Regions from separate parts of the Homo sapiens genome. Here regions 1, 2, 3 and 5 are each linked to region 4. The links come from fine-mapping of genetic effects on gene expression. A gene starts in region 4. Each other region holds a variant in brackets. All regions are shown on one strand. Distances are from middle to middle.

What was found. PIP is the estimated chance that this variant, and not a neighbour inherited with it, causes the effect. A credible set is the group of variants that fine-mapping cannot tell apart.
Region 1: its variant is the best candidate, but not a certain one, in a credible set for the expression of ARMC3 in blood mononuclear cells (TOPMed, PIP 0.75).
Region 2: its variant is the best candidate, but not a certain one, in a credible set for the expression of ARMC3 in pancreas (GTEx, PIP 0.55).
Region 3: its variant is the best candidate, but not a certain one, in a credible set for the expression of ARMC3 in whole blood (INTERVAL, PIP 0.54).
Region 5: its variant is the best candidate, but not a certain one, in a credible set for the expression of ARMC3 in whole blood (TOPMed, PIP 0.89).

Annotation. Positions count from the first base shown.
Region 1 is chr10:22,840,880-22,845,987 of GRCh38, reverse strand. No RefSeq gene overlaps it. Among named protein-coding and RNA genes, the nearest start is that of ARMC3, 85 kb to the left of the region's middle. The variant C/T (reference allele first, on the strand shown) is at 2,565.
Region 2 is chr10:23,175,255-23,180,362 of GRCh38, reverse strand. No RefSeq gene overlaps it. Among named protein-coding and RNA genes, the nearest start is that of PTF1A, 15 kb to the left of the region's middle. The variant C/T (reference allele first, on the strand shown) is at 2,558.
Region 3 is chr10:22,896,757-22,901,864 of GRCh38, reverse strand. No RefSeq gene overlaps it. Among named protein-coding and RNA genes, the nearest start is that of ARMC3, 29 kb to the left of the region's middle. The variant A/G (reference allele first, on the strand shown) is at 2,230.
Region 4 is chr10:22,925,738-22,930,845 of GRCh38, reverse strand. ARMC3 (armadillo repeat containing 3) reads right to left here and starts at 2,793. Exons shown (of 19, transcript NM_173081.5): 1 at 2,740-2,793.
Region 5 is chr10:23,013,373-23,018,480 of GRCh38, reverse strand. All of the region lies in intron 16 of ARMC3 (armadillo repeat containing 3), which reads right to left. All of the region lies in intron 2 of LOC107984215 (a long non-coding RNA gene), which reads left to right. Among named protein-coding and RNA genes, the nearest start is that of MSRB2, 80 kb to the left of the region's middle. The variant T/A (reference allele first, on the strand shown) is at 2,217.

The DNA.
Region 1 (5,108 bases), 85 kb after region 4:
GCAACTTTTCACAGTCAGATTTTTAAAATATGGGCTTTGCAGTATCAATGCAAGTTTGCGAATGTTGGCTTATGGGCTAACAGCAAAGTAGGTGTGATTCTCCTCAGCTCTGGGGCTTTCATTTTTTGTTCATTCATGCATGCATGCGTTAATTCATTCATTTATTCATTCATATCAAGATAGTGGAGAAAATTCATATTTAAGTCTTATGACTTGATTCTCCCTCACACCTCTCACACAAAGCAAAGGAGTGCAGCTCTTTGTATTGGGTTGAGGTGGGAGAGATTGTTCTAAATCGCAACAATAGAGACAGAGATAACTCTATACTCTATATAGATGTTGGAATGGTTATAAAATGCAACATTAATGACAAACATCATTCTTAAAGACAAGGAAAATAATGCTTCTACACAACCACATGGTGTTGTTAACTATGTCAGTCTAAAATGCCAGATTATATTAACCCAAACTGGGAAGTAAAGGAATAAAACCCTGTTACATTTTTCATTTGACCCAAGAGCAAGTCAATGATCCTTTACGTTAAAATATAATGTAATTATTGACAATAAAATGAGAGAAAAGAAGTCTGGGTATTTTTGACTCTACTAACACTTCTACTTTAAGTGTTAATGGAAACATAATAAGCTCAGATCCCATCTTCAGAAGGGAGGCATTTATTCCTCCAGCTGCTGGGAGTGCTGCCTGCTGAAGGCTCACAGCTGAGTCCCTCCCCAGGACTTGTCTGCAATTGGAGGAGCTTTCTTGCTCCTAAAACATGATCCCTCTCCAAGCACAGCCCACATCCATGCCTGGCCAATGCAGGAATATAAATATTATATACCTAGCTGCCCCTCGACCCCCTCCACCCCCACACCTCAGTTTGGAACATTCTGGAAGGGCCATCTCAATCTCAGAGCTCCATATAAGTTTAGCTGAGGCAACTTCTCTCTCAGCTCAATCCTACATCCCTCACCTCCTTATAAATGCTGCCGCTGGAGTACACTTTCCAGCAAACCTCCACGTGCAGATCTCCGGTTGTTTCTTGGGGATCCTGACCTATGACAATATGTGACTTCCAAATCACTGGAGGGTGTAAAGAGCAAAGTCAACATAGTCATTATAACTAAAGTAAAAAATAAAAAATAAAATTCTAAGAGCATGAAGAGTATTTTTTAACCGAAAGCATGACACGAGATAACATACATGTATGTGTTCAAATCTCCTCTGTGAGAAGACAAAGACACTCCAATGGATCAAAACAACAAAATCCAACTTTGTGCTCTTTTGTCAGTGTTATTTCTTTCATAGATGTCAGCTGAGGTCATCTTGACCTTTTAAAATTAAAATAAAATTGGCCTGAGCCTTTAGTTCTATGTCCTTAGGGAAGCACAGCGCCCTTTTCTGATATTTCTGCAAATTCCTGGGCACTTAACACTTCACTGTCACTTCTGCTCACCTCTAGACATTCGATCTCATGCATGACTCCCGTATAACTCAAACCCTTTCCTTGATTCTCCCTCAAACCTCTCACACAAAGCAAAGGAGTGCAGCTCATTATGTTGGGTTGAGGTAGGAGAGAGTGTTTTAAATCGCAACAATACAAACACCTTCAAATTGGACTTGATATTCATTTTCTGAAAGTTCCTTGACCAATGAAAGCAGTTCATCATGCAAGTTTCCTGAACAAAGATAATTTCCTCTCTAAACAGAACTCTGAGGGCAGCCAATAAAATATTTTTAATCCTATTTTTATTAGAAAAAATGTGGAAGCTACTGAGAAGTCCAACTATAGGGGAAGAGTTACTTAAACTATGGTAGCCCCAGATGGTGGGAAACTGGAGACCCAATTTTAAAGTTCATTCTCAAAGAATATTTAATGGCTTGGTAAAATGTTCTTGGTATTGAATTGACTATTTAAAAAAACATAATTGTATAAATTTTATGATATAAAATATAATTTCATGTATAGTAATATGAAAATTGAAAGGAAATGCACTAAATCATTAACTGTAGTTTCCAAATAGTGTAGTTTCTAGATAGTGAGATAGTTTCTAGATAGTGAAAATAAAATTAAAATAATTAACTGTTAATTACCGTTAATAATGGTAAATAATTTTATTTTCTATACTTTTCTGACTTTTTTTTTTTTTTTTTTTTCCTGAGGCAGTGTCTTGCTCTGTCACCCAGGCTGGAGTGTGGTGGTGCAATCTTGGCTCTCTGAAACCTCAGCCTCCTGGGTTCAAGCAATTCTTCTGCCTCAGCCTTCCGAGTAGCTGGGATTACAGGTATGTGCCACCACGAGTAGCTAGGATTACAAGTATGCACCACCACACCTGGCTAATAATCTGTAAAAAAAAATGAATACATACTTCTTTTGGGATCAGGGCAAATAAGCAATGCTATTTTAAAATATTTATTGGAGATTTACTCGGGATTAGAAATAATTATTTGGAGGGGAGGAAAAACGTAATCATTTACATTATTCCATCTTCAAACCTGCTCATTTTATGTCATGATGGGAAATCCGGGCCTTCTGAAAAGGGTGGCAATATTTCCTGTTGCTT[C/T]GCTGAGTATTTGTTGAAAGTGAGAAAAAGAAAGAGAGTGGAAAGTAATAAAAATTAGTTGATTTGGCTGGGCACGGTGGCTCACGCCTAATAATCCCAGCATTTTGGGAGGCCAAAGCAGGCGGATCACGAGGTCAGGAGTTTGAGACCAGCCTGGCCAACGTGGTGAAACCCCCTCTCTACTAAAAATACAAAAAATTAGCTGGACGTCAGGCGCACACCTGTAATCCCAGCTACTCGAGAGCCTGAGGCAGAAGAATTGCTTGAACCCAGGGGGCGGAGGTTGCAGTGAGCTGAGATCACGCCACTGCACTCCAGCCTGGGTGACAGAGTGAGACTCCATCTCAAAAAAAGAAAAATGAGTTGATTGATTCTGTGCTTGCAAATTCACAGGTGGCACAGACTTTGTATTAAGTATAATTATTTTGTATTTGTCATATAATTTTATAAAGTAATATTTCTATTACATATGCAGTTATCTAATTCATTTTTAAATAAATTCACTAATTTTAATGTCACAAAAGTAATGTACTCTTTCTTAAACTAAAAAATATGAATTTTTTAAAAATATTAGGTAATATTTAAATGATAAAAATAGGTATAATAACAGGGCTGCAGTGGTCTCCTCTATAAATTGGTCACTGTTGTGACTATACCATTGATAATTTTCAGTGTAAGATCAGGAAAGTACAGTGCTCTCTCTTTACCGACAGGACTTCCCCTCCACACCACACCCCACCATTAAAATGGGTTCCCTGTGACATAATCACACAACTGTCCTAAGAACACGAAGGGTGCTAACTATATCCAATGACAAAGGAACTGTTTTAAATTAATAAGCCAATGTTCACTAAGAAAGTGGATGAGGAGTTAAAACCGCTATTATTGAGATGCCTTTTGTAAAATCTGAGAAAAAGGAAAGAGGAAAAGCATTTCTGCCAAAAGGATTCAGATTCTCCTTTTATTTACTCATCAAAATCCGTTAGGAAGGAAATTTCTACTAGAGGATTTCTTGTTCTTGGATTTTCTTCGTCTCAAACCAGCAACACCCTCTTTGTCAAGGCAGAGGTTGATTGGTTGGATTCAAAGGGGATTATGTTTCCTAACATGGGGTCCAGGGCTCCTTTGCTCAGAATCACCAACGACCTTGTTAAAATGCAGATCCCGAGCCTTCCTCCAAAATTCTTATTCAGCAGATCCAAAGTGGAGCCTGGGAATCCATTATTTTACAGGTTTCCCAGTGATTCCTATACACATGAAAGTTTGAGACCCACTGGGCCCAGCAATTCTCTATGGTAGTTTTAACAAACTCTCGGCAATGTTGAAGGATGAGAGCCTGGTAAGTTTCTAAGGCCCATGGCTCACTGGACCTACAGAAGGTTTTCAATCCCTTTAACAAAATGTCTTGCCATATGAACTACAGTCCTTAGGAAACTGGTGAAAAAGATGGAGATCTCAAGAAATAATCTAATCTCTCCCTTCCCAGCCAGACTTAGTTGAAATTTAGTGCCATCAGAGGCGGTTTTTGTTTTATCAGTTCAGACTCACTAATAATGATGATGCTAAATAGTCTCAAAACACATGGTTTAATGCATATTTTGAAATATCATTTGAGGTGACTACATACTCCAACATCAGAATTATCCATACTTGAAACACATAATGTATTATGTGTGCATATGTGTGTGGGTACTTCATTCCCCATGCCAATTGTAAGCTGTAGACCATAGTTTTAAAAATAACTTTTATTAGGCGGGCACGGTGGCTCATGCCTGTAGTCCCAGCACTTTGGGAGGCTGAGGTGGGTGGATGGCTTGAGCCCAGGTGTTCAAGACCAGCCCAGGCAACATGGTGAAACCTGTGTCTGCCAAAAACAAAACAAAACAAAAAAAACTAGCTGGGCATGGTGGTGTGCACCTAGTGCACCTATAGTCTCATCTACTCAGGAGGATCATCTGAGCCCGGGGTGGTCAAAGCTGCAGTGAGCCATGATTGCACCACTGCACTCCAGCCTGGGTGACAGAGTGAGACCTTGTCTCAAAAAAAAACTACTTTTATTATTTTTATGACTATAAACATAACAGAGTTGTACAAAATTCAAACATTGCAGAAATACTTAAAGTAGAAAGTGAAAATCTACCATAGCCCCCATTGCAAACAATCAATATATATGCTAATGGATATACATGTGTGTGTGCATCCAACATTTTTCTATGCATATGGAACATTTTTAATGTACATGGAATCATATAAAATACAATGCTATACCATTTAGCAATGCATGTTGGACTTGCTTCCAAGGTAGTACCTCCATCATGATAATAGCTGGGTGGCATTCCACTGAATGGCTATATGATCACATTAGGTTGTAACACTTCTGTTTATCATCAACAATGTGGCACTTTATCATGAGCAATTCTTGCTCCCACTTAGTCTTGAGATCTCTGCTCATTCGTCTTTTCCTCAAGATTTCTTCCCTGACCCCCTAACTTAGGTTTACTTCCCTACTACGTGTTCTCATAGCGCTGCATGCGAATCCTTCCG
Region 2 (5,108 bases), 250 kb before region 4:
TACTACTTTATATAATGCTGAACAATCACTTAAGTTTGTTTTCTTTTTGCTTTGTTTTGAGACAGAGTCTCACTCTGTCACCCAGGCTGGAGTGCAGTGGCGCAATCATGACTCACTGCCTCTTCCACCTCCTGGGCTCAAGCCATCCTCCCACCTCAGCCTCCCAAGTAGCTGGGACTACAGGCATGTGTCACCACACCAGACTAATTTTTGTAGAGATGGGGTTTCACCATGTTGTCCAGACTGGTCTCGAACTCCTTGTACTCCCAAAGTGCTGGCAATACAGGCATGAACCACCACATCTGACTACTTAGGTATTTTTTAAGCTGAATAATCTTGTTGTTTTTCATAATTATATATGAAGCTATAAACACAGAAATACTGAGAAAATGTCAAATCACGCTGTTTTAGTTTATTGCTTTAAGGAATGTGTTTCGAGCATCAACCATGTTCAGGTGACTGTGTTATGTATGTGGAAATACGGAGATGAATATGTGCAGTCTCTGCCCCTTAGCACGTTCTTGGTGTAGTAAAGACAGGAGTGAGTAATTATGATCCGGTTCAGTGAGGGCTATATTGAGGCATAAGTCGGTATAAGAATGAGGGGACAGAGAGAGCTTCAAAAAAGGAACAATGTTGGCCACGAGTGGTGGCTCACACTTGTAATCCCAACACTTTGGGAAGCTGAGGCAGGCAGAGAGGTCGGGAGTTCGAGACCAGCCTGGCCAACATGGTGAAACCTAATCTCTATGAAAAATACAAAAATTAGCTGGGGGTGGTGGTGTGTGCCTATAATCCCAGCTACTCGGGAGGCTGAGGCAGGGGAATTGCTTGAACCTGGAGGGAGAGGTTGCAGTTAGCTCAGATTGTGCTTCTGCACTTCAGCCTGGGCAACAGAGCAAGACTCTATCTCGGGGGGTTAAAAAAAAAAAAAAAAGGAACAATGTTGAGCTAAGCCAGTCCTGAGGAAATAATGACCACAAGAGGAGGGGCAGAAATGTGCTTCTGGGAGGTTGAACATATTTACAAAAGCCTAGAGCTGTGAATAGCCCATGGATATCCCCAGCAAATCCATGGGATGTTAGGGGCTCAGCCCCAAGCACAGCCTGCGTTCTGCACCTTCCAGTGTGCCTTTTTGCATCTACTTTCTTAGTCCTGCCTCCACAGCCCAGCCTCATCCCAGGCATGGAGTGGCCTCATGGTGAACACATGGATGCCCCACCAAGACCTATGTCTTCAAAGAATGCCCAGTGCTCCAAATTATCCTTTTTGCCCTCTTTAGAAGCCAATTACTTCAGGGCCATTGGTCTCAGCTAGAGGCCATAAAGGAAAACATCTGCTCCCCTAAGGTATGGGCAACACAGAGCAACCACATCATTCCCTCCCCAGCATTTGATTAGGGTTCTTGAAAGGTAATGCCGTAAATCACAGGAAGGGATTTTTTTGAATCTGGCATTTGAGCCTTAGTGCAGTCATTTGAAGGCATTTCGGGGGTAGACAGAGATTTCCTCGTGTCCACTGAATCTCACTTTTATTTAGCCTTTGCCAGCCCTAGAAACAGATTTCCCTGTGTGCACCTCATGGTAGAATGTCTTTCTGTATCCTTACACACTCCTGATCCTGGCCTTTTTTCTTTTTCAGAAGCTTGTTATCTACTACACCTGAGTATAAACCCATTGTAGAAATCCAAGATGGTGCTAGGAATATATGCAGAGACTCCTAAAAATGTTAAGGGATGTCCCAGATGGAACCAAAGCTGAGAATGCATCATCTGTTATATAATATTTCCCTGCTCAAATTTAAAATGATGTGAGGGAATTATGTTGTCATTGGCCTTGGAGGTCTCCAGGACTTAGAGAGTACATTTCTTCTTCAGCTGGACAAGTTTGAGCAGAGAAGAAAGGAAGGTACAGGTAGATCATTTTATAATTTCTGGATGCTTTACAAAAATAAAAATTAACCGGAAAAGCTTCCACCATACCTAGGTTGTGGGAGCCAGTGGAGCAAACCACAGATACTCTCTAGTTCGTCCAGGCAGATGATAGCTTACACTTCTCTACCCTCTTCAAGGTGAAATGTGGCCATATGACATGCTCAGTGAATGAAAGATGTGTGAAAATGACATGGTACCTCTGGGAGGAAGTTTTAAGAGCCAGTGCACAGTTTGTCTTTTGCCTCCATATTCTGTAATGATTGTGGACGTACACCTTGGGGCAGGACATCTGTCAGCTGGGGACCTGGAGTGACTCTGATGAACAAAGTTCCCCCGCAAACCTTCATAGAACGGGTAACCTGGACCAGAAATAAACTTTTGTTGTGTGAAGCTGCTGAGATTTGGGGGTTGCTACTGCAGCAAAACCTAGCCCACCTGACATACCTAGGTTGGTGCATGTAGCATTCTGCACCTAGTGTCATTGCATAGAGACTCAGTACCTTTGTGGATTTGTTTACAGTCTTTTGGTTTTAGTAGTGAAAGCCAATTTGAACTAAGTTAGACATTAAAAGGGGGATACATCATGGGATACAGAGCATCTCCTAGAATCTGATAGCAGGAATG[C/T]AGTGAGGCCTCAGGAGGCAGCAGTGCCAAGTGTTGTAGAAACTGAAGATTCTCCCCTGATAGCTATTTTCTCCTTCCTTTCATAATGGCACTCCAGGATTTTAGCTGGGCACATAGCTACCCAGAATAAAAACTACATTTCCTGCTCACCATGGCAGCTCTGTGTGGCTATGAAACTAATTTCTAAGTAATGGGTTGTGACCAGAAATGAGGCCAAGCTTTGAGACTCAGTCTTTGAAGGAGAAAGACATGTCCTATATTGTCACTTCCCCTCTTTCCACTGGTTGGGATGCTGAGGCAACAGGAGGAGTTGGAGCAGCTACTATGAACCATGAGTTGAAAGCTACACGTTGAGGATAGATGAGCAAATACACAAGAGGAACTGAAGTCCCCCACATCATTTAGAGCCCATACCAAGCCTGGAATACCTATCCAGCTTTGTTTTGTCTCTATGAGAAGTAAATAAACTTGTATCTCATATTTGTAAACTTTTTACAGTAGAGCAGCTAAACTTGTACACTAGTCAACACATCATGATCTAGAAAGATGCCTGGACATTGTCTCTGTCTTTCCTGTGCTTCTTTCTCTTTCCTTCTGCACATCTTCATCCTTTTCATTTTCTATGGATCAGCTTTCTCTGATTTTGAGTTATTTCATAGAAAACGTGGCTGCCTTAAAGAAGCACGATGTTCATGTCTGTAACACACATTTATTAAGCACCTGTTGTGTGCTGGGAAGTGTGCTTGGAATATCTCTTCTATGTACTGTTCTGTCTGTTGCTAGCATTAAACACTAGCAACAGAACAGTAGGTACAACATATCCTTTTTTCCATGGGGCATATGGAGGATTGAAAATGAGGATTAGAGGTAGACAGTAACATGAAACAGAATGATCATCATGAAATTTGAAGAAATAAAAAATTTTATTTAAAAAAGGATTTTATTAAGGATGAAGTAAAGAGGGATGGTAAGGATGGAAATGTAGATGGGATCTAGATCAAAGAAGACCTTGTAAACTGTGTTATGGAGATGGGCATCATATAGATAGTCATTTGCAGATTGGATAAACCTTATAGGGGTATAGGAAGAAACTATCAGAACTATCATCTACATTTTTTATCTTTTTTTAGAAAAATTGTGTGTCCTATGCATTCTTTATAATATATATAACTGACTCGTATAGCAGCACATCTTTATAACTTACCTATAATTAATTTGGGAATAGAAAGCCGACAAACGGTTTTACCCAGGGGGATAGCATGATCCAGTTTACCAATTACGAAGGGTGCTTGGGGCTTCGCTGTGGAGAATGGATGGAAGCAAGGCAGGACTACAGGCAGGGAGACTGAGCAGAAGGCCGTGGCAGCAGAACAGCTGGGATATTGTGAAGGACTGAACTGGGTGGTGACTGGGCAGATTGGAGAGAGATTTTGGAAAGAATTACTAGGATTTCTGAACTTATTGAATGTGGGAATTGGAAAAAGAGAGAAGGAAAAGATGATACTAAGGATTCTGCTTTTGCCATCAGGATGAATGGTGGGCCTGTTACTGCAATTTTAGGCAAACTAAGGTCTGTAAATTGGCCCTAAATTGGGGGACATGGAAATTGCTGGTAAAATGATTAAAAACAGTTTCAATGTGAGATTGGGGTGCAGACTGATGAAGACTGAATAAAGGCAATGAACTTGATTGAGACCCCTATCTGGAGGAACTTATTAAGAAGTAGAGTTGTGAATGTGATAAAAGAAAGGTCAGGGGTGACTTTTCCGTTATTTTTGCAGATGGGAAAGACTTTCACCCTGTGAGGAATCTATTTTCTCCCCTTTATTCTCCTTGCAAACAGTCCTTTTCAGACACACACCCATCTTCCTTATCCTTGGCCAACTGCCTTATTCCTGGACCAACTTCTCTATTACTTTAAGAAAATCATTTTCTTTTATCTGGTCAAAAACGAATCCTAATAATTGATGACACATATAAAAGTAATGAGGGTGGTGGCCTTGCATTAAGGGAAAGGAAATTTCCAGCTAATATTAGGCAAGACAGACAAGCTCTAAAACCTTTTGAAGTTCCCTTTAGACACACCCAACATTTCTGTCTCCCTCATCTTTTCTTCAAGTTGGCCCTGAGTATTATTAAACACCACTTGTTCTTTTTAAAATTGTCTTAATATTATAGCCGTATTTCTTGTGCTATTTTTCTTTTTCAGTATTTCCGCCGTGTGAAGACTTTTTGGGGCTTACCTAGAGAGTAAACTCCATTGACAATTTCCTCCCTAAGGAAAAAAAGCATTTTAAGGTTTTGCTTTAGAAGCCAGCTTGAGGGGGTGGGGGTGGGGGGCTAAATTTCTTGGTTTGTCAGGCCTTCGGGACACAGACGGGTACAGGAGTGACCCACTAAAGGCATAGCTGTTGGTGCAGCCCAAAGAAGCTAACGTACCTTCCGTGGTTTCTTCTGGGCAGGGAGCGACTGTGGCGTTGGGAGAGGTCAGTGAGAAGGCCACACTGCTGTTTAACCAGGAACAGCTGCTAAATGCGCCTGGGCTCAGGCC
Region 3 (5,108 bases), 29 kb after region 4:
GGGTATATCTCATTTCAAGTAGAGGAAATAATATTGACAAAATACATTTTGTAGACGGCAAGAAAGTTATCATGACATGAGCTGATGGAGCCCATAAGAAGGGGCAGGAGATGTGGCTGGGAAGATAGCATGGTACCTTAGCCCAAGGGGTTTGTGGAAGCATTTTGAGTTTTATGAGACTCATACTTCAGACTTTGAGAAACTACTTTATAAAATAAGCAAACAACTGAGGTTCATAAAATTAGACCAGTTTGCACCAAAGAAATCCTAGACGCAAAGACAGATGTATGTATCACCAGTACAACAAGGATCCCTTCTCCTTGCACTAAACATGGCCCTTTTGAGGGAAGGAGCATTAAGAGAAAGTTGGACAGTTGTTCTCTCTGTTGGTACAAAAGCTCAGACAAAGAGCAGCCAAGTGCTAGGAACAGAAGCAACCCCTTTCTAAGTACTGCCATGTGTTTTTCTCCCCAGATTAAACACACTGAACTGGGATGGAAAAAAAAGCAACCTTTGAAAAAATAAAAAATGAAAATATTACTCGGGTGTTCTAGTAAACAGCCTAAAGTAGCACAGCACCAGAAAACTGTTGGTTGGGATTTTGGGGGCTAAGATCTCTTTATATGGCCAATTTGGGCGAATATTATCCCACAAAATAAAAGAACCTTAATCTCAGGTCTTTTTGGGTTTATAAAATCTGCCAACAAAATCCTCACTTGGGTGTTGATGGGTTTTCCTCTGCCCGACTGTGGCCTGGCTCTGAAAGAAGAAAAAGAGGCAAATGTTAAGCAAGACCATTTGAACTCTCTCTCTCCCCAGGGATAGGCCACAGCTGGCTTCCTCTGACTCCACTAAGAATTCATATTCTTCTGAAGACCAATGACAGCCTTTTCCTCCTATTACTATGACTTAGGCCATTTGTCTTACAAAATAATACCCTTGCAAAGGTTTGGGTGTTTGTCCCCTCTAAACCTCATATTGAAATTTGATCTCTAACATTGGGGTTGGGGCTAATGGGGGTCATTTGGATCATGGGGGCAGATCCTTCATGAATTGATTAATGCTTTCTTTCAGAGGTGAATGAATTCTCACTCTATTAGTTCTTATGAGGGCTGGTTGTTAAAAAGCTGGAACATCCCCCCTTCTCATGTGACCTCTGCACATGCAGCTCCCCTTCACCTTCTTTCATGAATAGAAGCAGCCTGAAGCCCTCACCAGATGTAGATGCCCAATATTGAACTTTGCAGTCATTAGAACCATGAACCAAATAAACCTTTTATTTAAATAAATTACCCAGTCTCTGATATTTCTTTATAGCAACACAAAACAGACTAAGACAGCCTCTTACTATGCTAAATGAATATTTGCCTCCTACCTAGGCCTGTTTTCATTAAAATGTGCTCTGAATTTAGTGGAAAATACTTCTTTGTGAGCCAAAAAGTGGGGAAATGACCTTTCTCAATTTGTTTAACTTTGATTTCCAAGTTCCTTCCATGATGATGGGGTGAAAAAGGAAGGGACATGTCACACATTAGATTCTCCAGGAAGTAGTTGTGGTGATAGAGTTAGGGGTGTAAACCTTTAATTATGAAGTAAAAGTTACAAAAGGCAAAAGGGAGAAAGCAGGACTGGGCAGCAGGAGCCATCAGACCACAGTACAGACAGGGCAGGGTCTTTGCCACCAAAAGACAAAACTCTGAAGCAAAGACTGCTCTTCTAAAGAGTCCTGCACTGGGGACCATACCGAGAATGGTGTGACATTGTCTTAAAAAGCTGAGGCAGATCTCCCAGAGCCTCAGTGAACTTTGTGTGCATGAGAAATAAATCTTTGTTGTCTTCAGTTACTGAGACTTGGGAATCTTGGATATGAGGGTTCATGACTTTAATCCATTTAAGGAAATTTTTGGCCATATTTCCTCAAATATTTTTCTGCTCTGCCTCCTTGACTAGCTTGTCCTGACTGATACAAAGTACCTAGATAAAAATCTATTAACAGGTCCTTCTAATCCCTCCTAGTAGCTGCTGCTTTACTATGTACCTCCACCATTGTATACACAAAACTGTATATTTGTTTTCTAGGGCTACTGTGACAAAGTAGCATAAACTGGATGGCTTAAAACAAGAGAAACTTATTCTTTCATAGTTCTGGAAGCTAGAAATCTGAAATCAAGGTGTAGCCACGTCCTTGTTCTCCTCAAGGCTCTCCAAGTCCTTCCTTCGGCTCTTTCT[A/G]GCTTTTTGTGGTTTCTGGCAATCTCTGGTATTCCTTGGCATGTAGATGCATCACTCTAATATCTGCCTTTGTCTTCATGTGATCTTCTCCCTTGTGTGTCTCTGTGCTTCTGTCTCCACATGGCATTCTCCTCTCTCCACATGGTATTATCCTCTCTGCATCTGTGTTCAAATTTCCCCCCATTTTATTAGGACACTAGTCATCAGCTTAGGGCCTACCCTAATCCAGTATGACTTCATGTTAACTTGATTACCTCTGCAAAGACCCTATTTCAGAAAAAAAAAAAAAAATCACATTCACAAGTACCAGAGGTTAGGACTTCAACATATCTTTTTGGGGGATGTGATTCAACCCAAAACAAACTGTATTGTTTTTATTTGCTTATATGCAGATTTTCCTTAATAAACTGATAATGTCTTGAGAGCAGGAAGCTCTTTACCCTTACTCTCTTCATTTCTAGCATAGCATCTAAATTATATTTAGGTATTCAGTAAATGTGTGTAGAAGGTGACAACTAAATTAGAGCACTGCTTGCATTGATAAAGATCAATTTGAAAAAAGAACATAGGTAAAATGGTAGAATACTAAATATTTCCATTTTTGGCAGCAAATCCAAGTCATTATATAGAGTCCCACTTATACACATTTTGGTTGTAGACAGGAGAAAAATCCAACTGATACTGTCTTAAAGAATTTTATTGGATCATATATCTAAAAAGCCCACGGTATAGGTCATTTTTATGTGATTCTGTGGCTCAATGATGAAACCAAGAGAAAATATATATTTCTTCTTTGAGCCATGACAGAGAACCTGATACAGAACTAGTCATAAACAACTGGAAAATTGGGCAAATTATCTGCAACAAACAACAGTTTTTATTTGGTTGGGGAGGTTATTTTTTTATTTCAATGAGTTTTTGGGGAACAGGTGGTGTTTGGTTACATGAATAAGTTCTTTAGTAGTGATTTCCGGGATTTTGGTGCACCCATCACCCAAGCACTGTACACTGTACCCAGTGTGTAGTGTTTTATCCCTCACCCCACCATCCCACTCTTTCCCGAGTCCCCAAAGTTCATTATATCATTCTTACACCTTTGCATCCTCATAGCTTACCTCCCACTTATGAGTGAGAGCATACAATGTTTGGTTTTCCATTCCTGAGTTACTTCACTTAGAATAATGGTCTCTAATTCCACCTAGGTTGCTGCAAATGCCATTATTTCATTCCTTTTTATGACTGAGTAGTATTCCATAGTGTGTATATATATATATATATATATATATATATATATATATATATATATATATACCACATTTTCTTTACCCACTCATTGATTGATGGGTATTTGGGCTGGTTCCATATTTTCACAATTATTAATTGTGGTGCTATAAACATGCATGTGTACGTATTCATATATTTTACACATAATGACTTCTTTTCCTCTGGGTAGATACCCAGAATTGGGATTCCTGGATCAAATGGTAGTTCTACTTTTAGCTCTTTAAGGTATCTCCACACTGTTTTCCATAGTGGTTGTGCTAGTTTACATGCCCATCAACAGTGTTAAAGTGTTCTCTTTTCACTGCATTCATGCCAACATCTATTTTTTTTATTATTATTATTATGGCCATTCTTGCAGGAGTAAGATGATATCTCATTGTGGTTTTGATTTGCATATCCCTGATAATTAGTGATGTTGAACATTTTTTCATATGTTTGTTGGCCATTTGTATAGCTTCTTTTGCGAATTGTCTATTCATGTCCTTAGCCCACTTTTTGATGGGATTTGAAACAACAGTTTTTAGATATTGCAGAACAAATATGGTGAAACTGATGATCATCGTTTTCACCTAGAGGCACTTTACAGATTAAAACTATTACGCTCAGCAAGCAGTACCCCAAAATACCATTTTGACATGCTGGCTGAATGAAGGAAGTAGCCTCGAGGTCTCTCTCTGACCTTTCCCTGCTTGCCTGTTTATCTGATCTGCTTACTTTCCCTAAGCACCAAGAGTGACTATCTTTGGAATTTCCATCTGATTAAGAAAGTTTCTTTCTAAAAAGAATGCGGTTGTCTTAAGACCTCCTTCCTAGGAATCACATCAAACAACCAGGAAGGATTAACTACCAGAGAAGATACTGGGAGTTACCACTCCTTAACAAACTTTTCATCTATTTTCCTGAGGGCAGGTCTGAGAGATTACCTGGGAGGCTTTATCTGCATACTAAGACGATCTTTGTTCACAGTGAAGTTCTGTTCCTCACCTTCCCACCACTTCCCCCCAGAGCTCAGAAGAACTTTGTTTCAGGCCCTGTTCTTTGGGCTCATTCATTTCCCCTGAGAAGCATTCACTTCTACATCCCTTTCTCCTCTACCACTGTGAAGAAGGGTGCATAACATCTGGTCCTCACTGGGTTATAGGGTAATCATTCTCCTGCAATTCCCCCATTCAGTGCACACTAAATAAATTTGCGTTCCTCTTTCTCCTATTAATCTGTCTATTGTCAGCTCATTTTTCAGTGAGAGGGAACCAAGTGGACCACAATAGTTTCATGAGCTGAGGAGAGAGGGATTGGAATTTGGGAATGTCGAGGTAAATGGAGTTTGCAGGGCAGAAAATTGGGGAAGAGGGAACTGTGGAGAGCTCCAGAAACCTGCAAATCCACACAAAGTTCTATTGAGCTTTTGGCTGACTACTAAGCTGTCCATATGCAGTGCAAAACTCCATGAGGCCTTGCAACGGAGCTGTAAGCTAAAAAAAATTCCCAGAGCATAGATGGGGGTGAGAGATGTTTTGATTTTTTAACTAGCTAGAATGGAGTGAATATATTGAAAACATGGAATATCTGGAAGAGACCAAAGAAGGGTTGCAACT
Region 4 (5,108 bases):
TCAGGGCCATCTTAAACGGTATATCGTAGGAGCAATCTTAAACGGTATATCATAGCCTTAAGGAAATTACCATAGTCTCAGTAGAAATCCTAGGAAGTAGAAAATCCTTGGGGAGAATCTACAGTGTCAGGGTTAGCTCAAATTGCATGTCAAGGGTCAAAAGCAACTCCTAGCATTAGAGACACTGACCAGAATTTATCACATACATTAAAAAGCCACGTCTTCATAGAAACTCCTAGATACTTCTGAAAGGCATTTATTCTAGGTCTCTAACTTCAGACCACACTACTTTTAAGACTTTGGAGGGCCTGGGCAAGCTTATTCACACAATAGCCAATATATTAAAATGTTAAAATGTGCCTGCATCGCCCATTAAATGTCATTTGCATCATAAAAACTTTTGAAATTTGTATTTGAAATTACTCAGCAATCAGTACATACACCTGGAAATTCTTGTAAAATGAGAAAATTGTTTTCAAATGTAATAAAAATTTATATTAATAAAACATTTAATTAACACTAATTTTTCAGTTCTCTTTTCATATTTTAGAGCCAATATAAGCATTTTTTTCAAATCTCAAACATCTTCCTTAGGTGCTTGAAAAGTGAACAGGCCCTAGACCTTGTGCCTATAATATTTCAGGCAGAGAGGCAGAAACTATTCTGGGCAAATGAGAATCTATCCTACAATTAATCTCTAGGAAAAAAAAAAGAGAGAGTTTATAGCACTCTATAACCAATTCCAAGACAGAGCAGCCTTTGATTTATAAAATAATTGCTTATGAATAATATTCAGGAAGCAATTTAATTACACCTGCATAAAGTTGTTTTAAATCATCTGATTTTCACTTAGGAACTAATTTTTCCTACTTCAGGATAGTGTTTTTGAGCAATTGCATAGTGCAGAGGTTAGAAGAGCTTACACAGACAGTATTGCAATGATAGAGTGTCTCCTAAGCTAAAGAATGAAGTTAAAAGCCTATGTGTTTTATCATGGCCCGGCGTGGTGGCTCACTCCTGTAATCCCAGCACTTTGGGAGGCTGAGGCGGGTGGATCACCTGAGGTCAGGAGCTCAAGACCAGCCTGGACAACATGGCAAAACTCTGTCTCTACTAAAAATACAAAAATTAGCCTGGAGTGGCGGTGGCATGTGCCTGCATTCCCAGCTACTGGGGAGGCTGAGGCAGGAGAATTGCTTGAGGCCGGGAGGCGGAGGTTGCAATAAGCTGAGATCACCCCATTGCACTCCAGCCTGGGTGACAGAGCGAGACTCTGTCTCCTCCCCCAAAAAAAGCCTATGTGTTTTATCACCATATTGGGTATGATAGTTAATGGAGGAGAGACTGAACAGCTGACATAGGTCGGTGGCAATGAGCTATGGAGATGATCCTTACAAGGGTAATACATTTCACTGTGGAGAATTTGGAAAACAAGGGCACAACGAATAAAATAAAAATCACCCAAAGATAAGCTCAGAGAGATCAATACTATTTCTTTTCTTTTCCTTTCCTTTCCTTTCCTTTCCTTTCTTTTTCTTTTTCTTTCTCTTTCTCTCTCTCTTTCTCTCTCTCTCTCTCCCTCTCTCTCTCTCTTCTCTTTTTTTCTTTTTCTTTTTCTTTTTTGAGACAGAGTCTCACTCTGTTGCCCAGGCTGGAGAGTGGCCTGATCTTGGCTCATTGCAACCTCCACCTCCCAGGTTTAAGAGATTCTCCTGCCTCAGCCTCCTGAGTAGCTGGGATTACAGGTACCCGCCACCACGCTCGGCTAATTTTTGTATTTTCAGTAGAGACAGGTTTCCCCACATTGACCAGGTTGGTCTCGAACTCCTGACTTCAGGCGATCCACCCGCCTCAGCCTCCCAAAGTGCTGGGGTTGTAGGCGTGAGCCACCGTACCTGGCTTTGTGTGTTTTTCTAAAGTGATTTTAACATCCTGCCTCAACTTCTATCCCCTACTTTCACCTTCCCTTCCTGGGTTCATATTCCTACTAAATTCTTATATTAACAAATAAATTCATGAAGTCTCAGTTTCCCTTCATTGCTTTAATAATCTCCAGTGGATTAGCATAACATGCCATTACAAATATTTTAAAATCCCTTAGCTATCTAGCCAGTCTCTGATTGTTGAAATTTGTTTCTAATTTTCTGGAAATATGGACAGGGCTGAAAGAACGTCCTTGGACATAAAATTTTCATCCATTATCCCCAACTATTTCTTTAGGATAAATCTCTAGCAGTAAATTAACTGGGTGAAAACTTCAGGGCATTGGATATGCAAACAACTCTGCTCTAAAAATGCATCTTCTTGACTACTGGAGCCATTTTTTTTTTCACGAGTTGATTGGTCCTTTGTATTTGTTCTTCGTGAACGTTCAGCCTATGATTTTAAATATTTTCTAATGAGTTCTGCTTTGAGAAGATTTAAAGAGGAGGAGGGCTCAAGAAATCGAGGCCACTTCTGAGTTGCTCACAGTCAAGTAACGGAATCTGACTTGATCTCACCTCAGATCCCCTCTCGGGCCTCAGTTTTGTCACCTGTTGAATGGGAGGTGGCGGGATGCTTACGAAACCCACCCCAAGCCCCGTCTAACCCTGCGGGCGCGAGGCAGAAACTAACAACGCCCAGCAAGGTGTTGCCTCACTGACCCAAGCAGTCTGCGCCCACGTGGCACCTTCTCCTTTCCCAGGTTTTCCTCAGGCCTCTGCCTTGGGCCTCCCCACCCCACGGGGTTACCTTTACCTGCCGGGAGATCCCGCCGAGTAGCTAGCTGCTCCGCAAACCCAGCAGACGAACCCCCAGTCCCTTGTTGTGCCTCGTTGCTAGGCGACGCCACGCCGCGCCGCGCCTGCGCCCTGGGAACGCTCGGGGCTGCTAGGGCGCCCATTGTCCCGCCGAGGGCAGCGGCCAGTGCGGGAGGAGCCAAGTGCGTCCGCGATTACCTGAATCCAGTGCTTTAGGGGAGAATGGAAACTGGGGGTGGAAGCTGTAAATCAAGAGGCAGTTCAGCCTCAGTTTCTGGCCCAAGGACTGGCTGTGGGTTCAAATACGCAAATACTATTGCATTCTTCCAAATAGAGGCGTCAGCCGGAATCTCTATGCAGATGAAACCCACATCAGCCACCTCCTGCCCAGGCTCCGTTAAGCTGCAGACCTGCACTGCCACATCTCTTTGCACTAGGATGTCCAATCCGTTTCCACAGAACTTCTCATGGCCCTTCAAAGCCCCGTTCTCTTCCTCTTTCTTTCCTCTTCCTGCCATTCTTCCAATTGCCTAGACTCAGAAGGAGCTTCAATTTCCCTTCTTCCTCCCATGCCCCCCAACCACAGTCATCACTTCAGCCACTTCTTGGCGGCTTACATTTTGTTTCCTGCTTGTTCCCTTTCTCATATCCTTATTGTCACTTCAATCCAGCTCGTCATTTTTTGGCCTTCTGGCTGAGAAATTCAGTTGCTCTCTGCTTACAGTTCTTTCTACGTATCACAGGCAAATCGGCCATCCAGAAATCATCGTTCCAGTCTTGTCACTTCCCTACTCAAATGTCAGCGGCTTCCTAAGATAAATTTTCAACACATTGGCCTGGAATTTAAGACCGTCTGCTCCATCTCTACTCCATCTGTGCAACCACATTTTCAACCGATCTCCACCATCCAAGCTCCAGCCAAACTTACTGTTCCCGAAATTTTCCACACTTTTCTCTAGATTTTCTTGCTTATCTGTTCATCACTTCATTTTTCAACAAATATTTATAAAGTAGCTTCTATTTCCCAGGTCATGTGCAATACCTGAAATATTCTCTCATTTCCACTTAATTAAGCCCAGCTCAAATGCCATCTTCATAAAATATTTTTTGATTGCCTTTAGCAAAAAGTCTCTCCCTCTCCTCTTAGACTTTGCAAATTCCGTCTCCTACCGGCCCCTGTTGGTCTCCCAGTCCTAAGAATGATAGATGCTTCTTATAATTGCTACTTTTATATATCTTATGTTCTCTTCTCACCATTTAAATTGCCTGATAAACAGCTTTATAACAATTATTTGTATTCAGTTTTCCATGGTCAAATATCCGGTGTGACTTCTGTATAGAAAAGATCTTAAGTAATGGTCATGAAAGTAGGAAAAGGATTAAGACCAAGTAGCATCAAGGAAACTAAGGAGGGAGTTTCAAGAATATAAGCGTCATCAAGTGTTATATGATTGGACCTTGAATAATATACACCTGTATTTTCAGCCTCTCCCTGTCTTCCACGTTTTTTCCTGTTGGTATATAATTATGTTGAAGCCCCTCCCATGCCTCATCTAAAAAGCAAAAACAAATAAAATCCCTTTGATGTTGTTGTTCCTTCTAACTATTATCCTATTGTTTTCTTTCTCTTCTTGGTCATGACTTTTCAAAAAAAGTAGCCAGCATTAGATACTTACATATTTTTAACTTCCTATTCACTCTTCAGACTATAGTGACCTGTTTTCATCCCAGCACTAAAACTATCCATATCCATTGGATGCTTCTTAGCCCTCATCTTGCTTGACATTGCTGCTGTATATAATACTCAATGACACCTCATTCTTGAAACTCTTTTCTTGGTTTCCTTGGTACTACTTGCTCTTGATCTTCCTCCTACTTTCTTTTATGACCATCATTTAAGATCTTTTCTATACAACAGGGTCTATCTATGTTGCCCAGGCTTGTCTTGAATTCCTGGCCTCAAGGAATCCTCCTGACTCAGCCTCCTGAGTAGCTGGGATTTTATAGGGATATATGCCCTATTGTGGTTTTTTTACAGAATCTTAAATGTTGAAATTTCCCAGGGATCTGTCCCTTGTTCTCTTTTCACACTATATGCTTTTCTAGGTGATCTTATTTATATTTGTGACTTCAACTATTGCACATATGTAGCTCCTCATCAGACTCCGGTACTGAACTCTAGACCCATATATCCTACTTGCTACACAGTTCCACCTGGATACCCACAGGCACTTCAGTCATCAACACTACCCACCTAAACTCATCATTTTCCCAGTATAGACATGTTTTTCCATTTATCTAGGGGTACCAACAGGTGTTCTACCCAAACAGACCACCAAGTCTGACAGGCATCCTAGACTTATTCTC
Region 5 (5,108 bases), 88 kb before region 4:
ATAGATGCCTTTTTGGTTTTGAAGCACACAGGCTCTCAGCTGAGCCACAGTCACGCAGAGACAGATCAAGAGGCACCATCTATGGCCAAACATGACTTTGGGCAGAAGGTCTAAAAATGAACGAAATGAGAACCTAAGTTTCCAGGACTCCAGACAGTTTGGTTACTCCAGTGTGGGCTGGGAGGCTGTTCTACAACCCCAGCTGTGACCACAGACCTGCTTCCCTGCCCAAGGACTTTAGCTCTTTTGCATGATGAGAGAAGTCTCCAGAACAGGCCTGGGTGGGACTTTGAGTAGGTGGAGTTCCAAGGAGCACAATGCTGTTTCTAATACCTGACTTGCAGTCAACACTGCTGCTAGTTCCTTTCCATTTTACCAGTAGAATTTTGTCAATTAACCAGTGATATGCAAATAAATGCTTCTGTTTATTATTAAAAAGAATTGTTGCCTTATCTAAATATCTACCACACTGCTCTCCGTGACATTAGCCTGCTTTCTGAGGGCAGATTTTCTTACACACCTTGTTCATTATAATAGGATCTGACAATATTAAGATTAAACAGTAGCTTTGATTGCAGCTTTTATTTTGTTACCTTCTTGAGAACAAGGAACTTAAAACAACAAATGTGTCAGAGGGTCAAGAAATCAAGAAAATGGGGCTAGGCCAGACCAGGCAGGTGAATTACCTGTTTTGTTTTGTTTTGTTTTGTTTTTTGAGACGAAGTCTCGCTCTGTTGCCCAGGCTGGAATGCAGTAGTGCGATCTTGGCTCACTGCAACCTCTGTCTCCCAGCCTCAAGCTGATTCTCCTGCTTCAGCCTCCCAGGTAGCTGGGATTACCAGCATTCCCCACCATACCCAGCTAATTTTTGTATTTTTAGTAGAGACAGGGTTTTAGCATGTTGGTCAGACTGGTCTCAAACTCCTGACCTCAAGTGATCCGCCCATCTCGGCCTCCCAAAGTGTTGGGATTACAGGTGTGAGCCACCATGCCCGGTCAATCACTTGTTATATACTCATGCATATTGAGCATCTGTTACACTAGCAGTAAATTAGGGGGTTTGGGAATTATTTAACTTTAAGTATTACTTGAAGCACAAGGTGGGAGGGAAGAATTGACTGAGGTCCAGATGAATTTTCTTTTTATTTTGAAGAAAAGAATAGAAAAATAATCCTGTCAACTGCTATTTGAGAATTACAAAGCTCTATATTCGTTTTAACAAGTACAAAAAGTTTTATACTTTCTAATTAAATATTATATTTGCTGCAGCTAAGTAAAAGAGAGAGGTTAATCATGTATCATTGAATGCACCCACCATGCATTCTAATAAAATCTCTAAGCAAAAGTTAGTATTTCCCAGAGAGATCATCTTAACCCCTTTCTCTTATTTGTAAAAAAAAAAATAATAAATTGGACATTGTCACATACATAGTTAAGATTTTAGTAAATTAGAAACCAATACTAGGAAGGTCAATTAGAAGTGCAGGAAGCACAGATAGGTTCACCTGTTTTCTAAAATTGCAAGGTGGTGGTGTAAGATTGGAGAGCTCAGTTCCAACAGTCAGTCCAATACTTCGTCACTGAATAGAGTGACTATTCAGAGTTACCTACAAAACAGAGGCAGGAGTGTGTCTCACAGAGCGTGCTGCCTGATGTAAGAACAAGGAGTCATTTGGCATGAAGGAGAAAATATCTGATACACCTCCAGGAAATGCAATCTTATGAATGATTAAAAAGAGAGAATTTCCGGGAACTCCTGAACTGTAGTTTCTTATTGCTATAAATAGAAGCATTTCTTTTGGACTTCTTTCCCATGAAGTCTGCCAGGTTATATTAATAAGGGCTTCAGTACTTAAATAAATTTCATTTCATGCATATGGAAATAAACACTTGGAAATTATAAAATTAACTCCGGTAAAATTAATTCTCAGAGCATCAGTTTTTGGTTAAAGACAGCAGAACTTTTACCTCTCCTGCAGAAACTTTAGCAAAACTACCTCAGGAAACAGGGATTTACTGTGGGATCCAAAGCTCTAAGGTTATTTTTCTACATTCATAGGTGGATGAAAAGGAGAGCAGGTAAACATATAGAATATTTGGCTGGCTCTAAATCGCTTATTGACATTTTCAAAGTTTAATCCCTTGCTCCTTTTTGATACCATCAACTATTGAAATACATAATTTTAGGACAAGGCTGGTGGGAGAAATACAGGTCA[T/A]GAACCCAGCCCTCTTGGGGTTTCAATTTAAGCAAGAAGATTTTGTTATGTGGAAAATAATCACAATACCAGGCAGCATTCAATAAATTCCACATGAGTGATAAAGATGTGAAAGTCTCCAGGAGTTCAATGTTGAAAGAAATGTATTCAAATTGGGTGTCCTATTCCACCCAATTTATTCCAAAAGGATGGGAACAAGGCGTTGTTCAAAGTAGAGATAGGATTTGTTCTGGGTAGTGTCTGATTGTGTGAGTGTGTGTGAGTGTGTGTATTTCTTTGTTGTCTGTCTTCTCACTAGGATGTAAGTTCTATGAAGGCAAAGGTTTTTGTTTACTGCTGTATCTCCAGCACTGGAACAATTCCAGGCACATAGAAGGCGCTCAATAAGTATTTGTTGAATGAATGAATTGTAGAAAAGAAGGTAAGAAGGTGTTTACATGTGACTAAGAGACAATATCTGTTTCTGAAAGACTTTAGTAGTCAAGATTTGGGGGAGGAAGCAACAACAGTTTAAGTTATGGGTAAAAAGAGGGTAGTGGGAAATTATTTTAAAAACAAAAATGTTTTAGGAAATCATTATCCTGTAGATCAAGATTGTGTGAGTGACAGAAGTATTAAATAAAGCATTTGCTGTAAATATCTAAAAGGCTCTAGACATGATCAGCATGGAAAGAGGATATGAAAAAGGAGACAGAAAAACAACTAACTTTTAAATGTGTGTAATAAACTCATGTTCAGTCAAGTGAACGTTCATGAAAACTGGTCTGAATACAAAAGAACAGTGTAGACAGAACTTATCACACATTTCACAAACAGATCTAGTGAATGCTATTTTTAAATGTTTACATTCAAATGTTCTCTATAAGGAAAAGCTTTAGAAGAAATGTTAGATATGTTGGTTTCGGTGAAGACTAAGGAAGGAGGAGAGTGGATAACCAGGGAACGAATTAATCACGTCTCCTATGAGTGTTTTGCCATTAAGGGGAGTACAACTAAAGCCTTCGAAACCAAAAGTAATATGGTGCCTGGTCACCCAGGAGACAGAGTTTCAAATTTACATGCTGCATGGTAATGAGATTCATCAGGAAAAAGAAATCCGTACTTCCCCTTTCTCTTCTCCATATTAGAACACTTCACATGTAATTGATCTTACTTCTTTCCCATCTCTTCTCTCCTCTCCCTTTCAAAAATGTAGCACTCCATGGTTCTCGATGTCTCATTATTCTGTCAGTATCTCTCACTTTTTTAATTTATTTTTTTCCTTTATGATCTTCTTTTAAATTTTTTTTTAACTTTTATTTTAAGTTCAGGGGTATATGTGCAGGTTTGTTACATAGGCAATTTGTGTCATGGGGTTTTTTTTTTTTTTTTTTTTGTACAGATTATCTCATCACTCAGGTATTGAGCCTAGTACCCATTCATTATTTTTCCTAATCCTCTCCCTCCTCCACCCTCCACCCTCCAGTAGGCCCCAGTGTGTGTTGTTGTTCCCCTCTATGGGTCCATGTGCTCTCATCATTTAGCTCCCACTTATAAGTGAGAACATACAGTATTTGGTTTTCTGTTCCTACATCAGTTTGCTAAGGATAATGACTTCCAGCTCCATCCATGTCTCTGCAAAGAACATGATCTCACTCTTTTTTGTGGCTGCATAATATTCCGTGGTGTATATGTACCACATTTTCTTTATCCAGTCGATCATTGATGGGCATTTAGGTTGATCCCATGTCTTTGCTATTGTCTCACTCTTTTTAACATAAAATATTCCCAATGGCTTTTCAGACGAATGCAGTTAAAATATTTTATTCTATTTCCAGGAGTCCAAAGTTTTAATAGTCATAAGACAAGAAGGGTTGACCAAAAGACAGGCAACAGGACAACAGGGCTATGGCTAATCTACCCCTCAATGGACCAAAGGCTAAGAAGGGAAGAGAGAAGGGACGCACATTGAGCCCCTAAGTGTGCTAGGTGATGGTCAGGCACTTTCCTGACACCATCTCTCCTCTTACAGCAGCTCTTTGAGGCAGGGATCATCATTTTCATTTACAATTCAGAAGACCAAGGCCCAGTTGTGTCTGAATCCAAAGTCTCTGTGTTCTCCTCATGCCAACAATCCTCTTAAATCCTAGGAGTGCTTCAGGGTTTATCTTGAAGTGGGGAGTGAGCTGCCAGAATGTGCAGAGGAAGAGGGAGAGTGAAGACAGTACAAAGAAGGAATAATTATTCTCATTTGTTTATATTTGTTCTCCCTGGACATACTGTAAAGGAGTCAAACATCTGTTCCTTTCAACAAACAGCATTCAATAATTAAAGTAATTTTTAATATTATTAATCAATAAATAATTTTTTACTGCCCCTGATGAGCCTGATACTATTCTAGGCTCTACGGATATAAAGATAAAAAAAAAAGCGTGGTCCCAGATCTCAAACAGCTCATTGTTCAGTAAGAAAGACAAATAAATCAACACAAATCAGTGCAGGCTATGGAAGAGATAGAATCCATTCACAAAGGAGTTTCAGTTTCATGGGATGACTAAGGGCTGTGTTCTGGAGATCTAATGTACAGCATGGAGACATTATATTATATTTAATAACACTGTATTGTACACATGACATTTGCTAAGAGAGTAGATCTTCAATGTTCTCACCATGAAACTACAAAAAATGAAAGAGAACTCTGAGGTGACAGAAGTGTTAATTAACTTAATCGTGGTAAACATTTCACAGTGTACACAGATATCAAAACATCATGTTTAAATGTACATAATAATTCATTTGTCAATTAAGCCTCGATAAAGTGAGAAAAAACTATAGCTAAATAATTAAAAACCCAAATTCACAAAAAAATGGGCACAAAATAAATGTTTATCCTGGTGTGATCAGAGAAGGCTT